Homo sapiens: one gene and its partner. The protein of the gene in region 1 interacts with the protein of each later gene in a biochemical or structural test. Each region holds a gene or a part of one and is shown on either strand. Other genes may lie near its edges.

The links.
Region 2: the proteins of LEP (region 1) and ISLR2 interact in a biophysical measurement, tested with the Homo sapiens proteins (one large-scale study listed by IntAct).

What each region holds. Positions count from the first base shown.
Region 1 is NC_000007.14:128,244,257-128,248,060, reverse strand, and holds part of LEP (leptin precursor), read right to left. Parts: intron 1-3,804. UniProt on the Homo sapiens protein: Key player in the regulation of energy balance and body weight control. Once released into the circulation, has central and peripheral effects by binding LEPR, found in many tissues, which results in the activation of several major signaling pathways.
Region 2 is NC_000015.10:74,129,158-74,133,479, forward strand, and holds the start of ISLR2 (immunoglobulin superfamily containing leucine-rich repeat protein 2 precursor), read left to right. Parts: upstream 1-1,428; 5' UTR 1,429-1,464; exon of another isoform or gene 1,465-1,617; intron 1,618-1,658; exon of another isoform or gene 1,659-1,940; intron 1,941-2,049; 5' UTR 2,050-2,159; intron 2,160-3,589; 5' UTR 3,590-3,597; coding exon 3,598-4,322. UniProt on the Homo sapiens protein: Required for axon extension during neural development.

The DNA of each region.
Region 1 (3,804 bases):
TCGGCCTCCCAAAGTGTTGAGATTACAGGCGTGAGCCACCGCATTGGGCCTGAGCCACTGCGCCTGGCCAAGGAAGAACATTTAAATGAAGAAATGCCTTGGGTGACTCAGCAAAGAAAGTCATGGTGCTTAAACTGATGAATGCTAGAGTTCCTCAGAGCTATGCTTGAGTCAGAGCACAGGGCCCTAGGAAAGTGGCTAACCTCTCTGGGACTCAGTTTTCCTGGCTATCAGATGGGGATGATATGAATCATAATGCCACCTGTCGATGTTATGTGGCTGAAATGAGATAAAGCATGTAAAGTGCCAACTCCTTGCCTGGCACGTAGCCAACCCCAATGCCTTAGCTGTTATCACCATTATTTCCAGCAGGGGAATCAGGGAGGCATCATGGAGGAGATGGCATTTGATAAGGGACCTGAGAATGGGTAGGAATTGAGTTTGTGAAGGTGGAGGAGAGGGCAGCCCTGGCAGAGGTGGAAGAACACAGGTGGGTTTAGGAGATGGTGGCTTCCAGCTGACACCAGGGTGAGGAGCCGGGGAGGGCTTGGGCTGGAATCGCAGGGGCAGTGAGCACCAGGAAGGGAGGCAAAGCTTTCCCTTCTGCACCCTGAGGAGCAAATGTTTTCAGCCTGGCTGACTAGAAGGATGGAGATGGAAACTAGGAGAGACATGAGGAGAGATTTTGGAAAGAGGTGGTTGGGCTCCTGCTGATGTCCTAGTACTGGCTGGACATGCTGGTGAGCCTGCCCAGCTGCCGCTTGGAATTGGAAGTCTGAGCTCAGAGACAAAGGGCTGCAAATGTAGGACCCAGGGGCCCGCTGCAGCTGTGGCAGGAGAGCATGGGGAGAGCATGGGTTGGGGTGGAAGAAAGGCCGCGATCAGCTGTCTGCCTGAGCTGCAAAACCTCTCTCCAGAAGTTTCCAAAGCAGTTTTGAACATTTAGGAGCTGCCATTTTCTTAGAGTTAAAAGATGAGCTGCTGAAATGTTGATACAGCATCATTCTTTCCTCTGAGTGCTACTGAAGCAGCTCCTGGAGAGGAGAGGGGTCTCTAGGAAGATGGTGGGCTCACAGTGGGCTGTATGCTCATTTGGGACGCAGCCTGCACTCTGCTGTCTCCCTCATGGCCCACTTCTCTCTGCACTCCCTGGGCTGCCCTCTCCACAGGCTGCCTTCCTTCTCCTTTAATCAAGGCCTGGCTGCCCCATCTTCTACCCTCATCCCTTGCCATGGGTACCCTGGAGAAGAAATGAGAAGAGTAGAATGTGGAGCCCCTGGAGCTGCACAGATGAAATGTGGCTGGGTGTGGTGGCTCAGCCTATAATCCCAGGGCTTTGGGAGGCCAAGGCAGGAGGATCGCTTGAGCCCAGGAGTTCAAGACCAGCCTGGGCGACACAGCAAGACCCCATCTCTAAAAAAAATAAAAATAAAAATAAAAATAGCTGAGTGTGGTGGCAAACGCTTGTGGTCCCAGCTACTTGGGAGGCCAAGGTGGGAGGTTTGCCTGAGCCCAGGATGTCGAGGCTGCAGTGAGGTATGATCACACAGTGCACTCCAGCCTGTGTGACACAGCAAGACCCCATCTCTTAAAAACAAAAGCCAAAAAAGATAATGAAACAATCTCAGTAAACAGGGCAGCAAGAGAGGCTTATATAATGTGCCATCCACCCCACCACAAATTCTGCTGTCTACCTCCACCTGGGTCCTCTGCACCAGCCTCACTGTTACTTATCCTCAGGTGGACCCCACCCCCATCCTCACTTGGCAGTTGTGTGCAGGGCCCGCACCCCACCCTCCACCTCCTACCTCCCTAAGAAGCTGGTGGCCTCTAGACTTGAGCTCCATCACCTTCCCACCATTGCAGGGGACAAGGCAGATGGAGGCAGACCCTCCATCCTGGGGACCTCAATGTCAAAGTGGGAGTTAGGATGGGCAGAGATGTGTGCTCCTCTTTATTTTTTTTATTTTTTTATTTTTTTATTTTTTTTTTGACGGAGTCTTGCTCTGTTGCCCAGGCTAGAGTGCAGTGGCGTGACCTCGGCTCACTGCAACCTCCGCCTCCCGGGTTCAAGCGATTCTCCTGCCTCAGCCTCCTCAGCCTCCCGGGTAGCTGGAAATACAGGCGCCCACCACCGCACCTGGCTAATTTTTGTATTTTTAGTAGAGACGAGGCTTCACCATCTTGGCCAGGCTGGTCTCAAACTCCTGACCTCGTGATCCACCCGCCTCGGCCTCCCAAAATGCTGGGATTACAGGCATGAGCCACCGAGCCTGGCCCATCTGCTGCTCTTTAGATCCAGGCTGGAGGGCCTCCTGAGCCAAGATTAGGCCTGCCCACAGCCCTCTGATGACATCAATGGGGAGAACAAAGCGAGTCTTTTGTATGCTACTGTGAATTAAATTCAGGTAACATGGTATTTGCTATTAATTATGAGGGAAAAGCTTTAGCTAGTCTGAGTCCTCTCCCTATACACATTCTCCTGTGGGATCCCCTCCTGTTCTTCCCTCCCACCCTTCCTTCCTTCCTTTCTTCATAACTCCAAGTTGGAAGGGACTTGGGGATGAGAAAAGAACAAAGGAGGAAATAAAGGCAGCGAAGTTTGGATCTTCGTTCTCCAAGTTGCTCAGAATCTAGTGGAACAGACAGGACCTTGAACAACTCATTTTAACACAACCTGGTGGGAGTTATGAGGGAAGAAGCATAGAACCCAAAGAACAAAGGGGAAGAGGGACTCCGGGGATGGGAGGAGAGCTTTGCAAGGGAGGCAGTGTGTGAACTGAGGCCTGAAGGACAGGCGTTCCCCAGGGGAAAGAGGGGAAGCAGGGCATTCCAGGCCAAGCTCCGGAGTTAGGGAAAGCCATAGTTGGTTTGGGAAGATTCAATATGGTAGAGGGGTGGAGTGTGTGAGGCTGGAGAGCTAAAATTTTGCGGGCTTAAGTCTGTTTAGTAGGGACCTCCTGGGAGATCTAACCTACCCAAGAGACACACATACACACACACAGACACACACACACACATACACAACCCTTGATGGCTATGTTTGCATTTACACTCCAGCCCCCTTGGCTACAATTGCCTGGCCAGTGGTAGGCAAGAGACGAAGAGGCTCTTCTCTCCTCCCTTTCCTCCTCCCTTCCTTCTCCTGACCCTGATTGGGTCAATCAACTTCTCTCTTAGGAATTTAGAGTGGGGCTGCAGAGAGTCCAGTTCATCTCTGTTGAGGGCTCAGAAGCTCTAGGGTAGCCACATTTGGCCTCATATGCATGGAACAGCTGAGAGAGACCAGAGCCCACATAGCCACTGAGCCAGAGTATGGTCACCGCCTGTGCTCCTTCCTAGCCTTCTTTGTGGTTCCTGGGTCCTCGTGAGGCCTGGTGGCCCTCCCTGTCCTTAGCCTTCAGGGTGAGATACTCTTTTCTTATACTCACTTGGATAGCTTTCAACTTTCTAAATATATTTTTCATTTGAGACAGATAGATACATGTAAGAGAAATAAGTGTCAAGAAGTAAAATTCACCCTTACCGTGGGTAATGCACTCTTGAGAGTCTCGGCTCTTTTTTCAAATGTTGATCACAATAAACAATTTGAAAAACACAGGGCCAGCGTGAGTGATTTTCTCTTATTTGCAACCAAAAGCCTCATTTGAGAAATCGTGTTAACATATGTAACCAGCAGAGAGGGTGTGAGTACAGGGGTTACATTCTTTCTGTTCATCAGAAAGATCTGATCTCATCAGAGATACAGATAGGTTTCTACTCCTGTTTCAGCTCTAATCTGTGTGTGTGTGTGTGTGTGTGTGT
Region 2 (4,322 bases), on another chromosome or scaffold:
GAGCAAGATGCGATGGTCTCAGCCCGCTGGGCCGCCCGTAGCGACGGCAGGAGTAGGGGAGAGGGAGGGACGCTTGGAGTGTGAGCGCACCAGTCTGTTCATATTTAATTTACAAAGCAGCCTCGGAACCCCGGGCCGGGTGGTCTCTTTAGACGCTGCGCTCTTAGCCTGTCTCTCTTCCCCACCCCCTCCCCTAGCTCATTAAGATGCTCAACACTCAAATCGGGGTATTGATCTCCACGGAAGCCCCAAACCCTCGCCATCGAGAGACCCCCATGGCCCGGGGTGATGGCTGTGGGGCTTGGTGCTCCCAGAGAGCTCAGTGGCTACAGAATGGGTGGGGATTCTGCGTGTCTCCCGGAGCCTGAACCCCTTTCCTGGTTATGGCCGGTAGCTGTCTCCAGGGCTAACGTGGGCAGCGCAGGGGGGCGGAAACCGGGTTTTAGCCAAATGCCTCGACATCGCCGCGCCTCCGCCTCCTCGTCGCTGAAAGAAATGTCGGGGTTTCATCAGAGCTAGGGAGCGACAGTCGGGAACAGCGAGTCTGCCGAAGCCGGCTGTTGTGTGAGGGTGTGAGACGGCGGGGCGGTGAGGGGCCACCGCGGCTTGGGGGATAGTGCGTGTGGGGTTGACCGTGTGTCTGCTTGAGAGGCTGTGAAGATATGGGGGGCAGATATGGGAGAAATGCTCGGGCCTGAAGTCCCCAGCCCACCGTGCTCAAGAGTAGCGGACGTTTTGCCACCATCCTTGTCTGTGCTACTGTCTGCTGCAGCTTCCGTGCCCCGTTCTCCTGGAGCAGGCAAGACCTGGAGTGAGGTGCTTGGGTGCGCTCGAGAGAGCTTCCCCCTGCTCCACCTGTCCCGCGGTGCGCGCAGGCCAACGCGTCGGGCAGTGGGCTTCAAGCGCTGGTTTAGCCACAAAAGACCAGAAGTAAAGAGTTCCGGCTTAAGAGGCTGGGCAGGGCTGCGGTGGGCTGGGGAGGGGGGTGTCCCTTCCCAGCACGCCCTGCAGGGCTGTGCGTTCTGGTGTCGGGTTAGACTAGCAGGCGGGGCGGGGGGGTTGGGGCGGCGGGGCGGGGGAGACTAGGGCTTATATCAGCCCAGATCCAGGCAAAAATGGTAGGGAGGGTGCGGCGCTCTGCTAACACTATCAATTATGCATCATGTTGAACGTGGCTTCGGGGAGGAGGCGGCTAGCAGCGGGGGGTGCGGGAGGGAAGGGTCCGCGCGAGCTCGGCTGCGCGCAGCTCAGCGGGTCCCGCTCGAAGTCTGTCGGTGCCACCGCCTGCATTTGCAAAAAGAGTTTAAAGGCAAAGACACGCCTTCCCCCCCCACTTCAGCCGCGCGCCTTTCCTTCCCCCAAATTCCTCAAAGATGGTTTGTCTCACGTGTTGCAGGGCGTAAAAGCGGCTTGCATTCAATTAGCAGCGAAGCTCGCGGGCGCTGGCGGGACAGGCGCGTGAGGGTGAGTTCGCGTGAATGTGTGTATGCGTGTGCGAGAGGAGAACGGTAAGTGTCCCGGGTGCAGGTGTGCCCGTGAAAATGCGTGTGAATGTAGCAGGGGCTGAACACATTGATGCGATTATTACCTGACCATGGATGATTGTAAACTGTGAAGGTCGGCTATGGGGAGGGTGTGAGGGACTGTGTGCGCGAATGTGTTTGAACGTGGGGTGGGGGAGGTGGTGTGATCAGGGACAGTAACAATGCCAGCGGCTGTGTAAATGTGGGGGTACGTGGGTTATGGGGGTGCAGTAGGCTGCGAAGAGCCCAGCCAGGACAGTGGGCGTGGGATGCCCCTTATGACCGACGTGTCTTGGCCTTGGGGAGGGTCTCCGTGGCTTTAACAAAAGTAGACCAAGCAGGAGGCGGGAGAGGCTATGCGCGTCCCCGCCAGGCCCGGGAGTGCGCAAGGACTTTCTCCAACCTGCAGCCAGAGAGGTGGGGGAAACGGACGCAAAAGGAAAAATTGAAGTGGTACTTTGGGGCCACCAAGTCCCCAAACTTACCTGTCCCTTTCTTTGCCCCCCGCCCCCCGTTTTCCCCACAGCCACAACACATGCGTGTATCTTGCTTGGGCTATCTTCCCTGCTCTGCCACGCCGGGTCTGGAGAAGGGGTTTCAGCCCCAGGACATTTACTGAGAGTCGGCGAATATTGGGTAAGCAATGGGGGCCACCCCACAACCTTGACCCAGGTGGGGTTAGGTCCAGCCTAGGGCACCTGATGGGGTGCGGGGCTGGTGGGGGTGCTGTCTGGCAGGAACCGGGAAGGGAGGGAAGGGACCCTCCCAGAAGAGCAAAGGCAGAGTGAAGGAGCAGGTTCCCAAAGACAAGTTGTGGGAGGGGCTCTGCCAAACCTGACAGGCGCTCCAAATGGGGGCAGGGAGTCTGTGCAAGTTCGTTTGTGTGACCGGGCTTAAGGTGTTATGGGGAGGGGGTCCTTAGGCACCGCAGAGCTGTGGAGAAAGGCGCAGAATCTTTCATCTTCTCCAGCTTCATTAGCTAGTGGCAGCCCCATGACCTGTTGGCTGAGGACGCCTCTGCCCAATGGGAGCCGCCTGAGGGACCTGAGAGGAAGCTCTAGTGACCGCTTTCCCAACACACCTGGTCCAAACATGGGGGAGAACCTCCTTCCCCGTAAGGAAGGTTGGCAGAGCAGCCCTTCTTCTCCCCTCACAGGAGCTGCAGCCCCGGGCAGGTGACTTTGGCCTTAGATGCAGTAGGGCATGGGGATGGGCTTCCCCAGATCCCACATCTCAAGTCGTGCAGTGCAGGTCCTCCTATTGCTTCTCTGCTGGGTTTCGGTCACAGTGGAGGGCTGTATGCACACACAGGCACATGCCTGTGTTCTTGTGGGTGGGTCGGTTCGTGTGAGGACTTGTGTCCTTGTGTCTGTCAATTGTCACAATGGACAGGAAAGCGCTTTGTACCGTGGTGGAAAACACGTACAAATGCTGGTTAAGAGAACAATGAGGTCTGCAGGGTCTATTGTGTCCATGTCTGGGTGCATATGTGTTTGTGAGTTTAGGAAATGTGTTGTGAGCCTCCTAATTGAGCATCAGGTCCTCTAAACCCCTGCAGAAGTTGGCGGTTTGATTATGAAGCCCCGCGTCTGTTTGTATTGTTGTGTGCCTGCATGGGCGTGTGTGCGAGTGCTGTGCGTGGGACAAAGGTTCCAGGGAGGACAGCCAGTCACGGACAAAAATGTCCTTCTTGGGTAGGATCCATTTCACCAGGTTAAACGAAGGCTTAGAAACACAGAGAGGGGTACGTGAGGAGCCCGCTGGAGATGGGCGAGCTGCGGAGCCCACGGAGGGGCCAGCTCCAGCGTGAAGGAAGGAGTAGGAAGAGAAAAAAGGGCGATATACCGGGCCGCTGGAAAAGGAAATTAGGGCCCTGGGAGGGAGCATCCGTTGAACCTCGAGATTTTTATTGACCTTCACTTCAGAGAGGCTCCTGGCCATAGAGGAGGTTACCGGAGCCCTGGAACTAGTGCTAAACGGGCTTGCGGAGGCACAGCTTGATAGGGGAGGTAAGCTGGGGTTCAGTGAGTCACCTTCTTTCTTCTTCACCTGGCTTCCATCTGCAGGAGCCGCGATGTTCCCCCTTCGGGCCCTGTGGTTGGTCTGGGCGCTTCTAGGAGTGGCCGGATCATGCCCGGAGCCGTGCGCCTGCGTGGACAAGTACGCTCACCAGTTCGCGGACTGCGCTTACAAAGAGTTGCGTGAGGTGCCGGAAGGACTGCCTGCCAACGTGACGACGCTTAGTCTGTCCGCGAACAAGATCACTGTGCTGCGGCGCGGGGCCTTCGCCGACGTCACACAGGTCACGTCGCTGTGGCTGGCGCACAATGAGGTGCGCACCGTGGAGCCAGGCGCACTGGCCGTGCTGAGTCAGCTCAAGAACCTCGATCTGAGCCACAACTTCATATCCAGCTTTCCGTGGAGCGACCTGCGCAACCTGAGCGCGCTGCAGCTGCTCAAAATGAACCACAACCGCCTGGGCTCTCTGCCCCGGGACGCACTCGGTGCGCTACCCGACCTGCGTTCCCTGCGCATCAACAACAACCGGCTGCGTACGCTGGCGCCTGGCACCTTCGACGCGCTTAGCGCGCTGTCACACTTGCAACTCTATCACAATCCCTTCCACTGCGGCTGCGGCCTTGTGTGGCTGCAGGCCTGGGCCGCGAGCACCCGGGTGTCCTTACCCGAGCCCGACTCCATTGCTTGTGCCTCGCCTCCCGCGCTGCAGGGGGTGCCGGTGTACCGCCTGCCCGCCCTGCCCTGTGCACCGCCCAGCGTGCATCTGAGTGCCGAGCCACC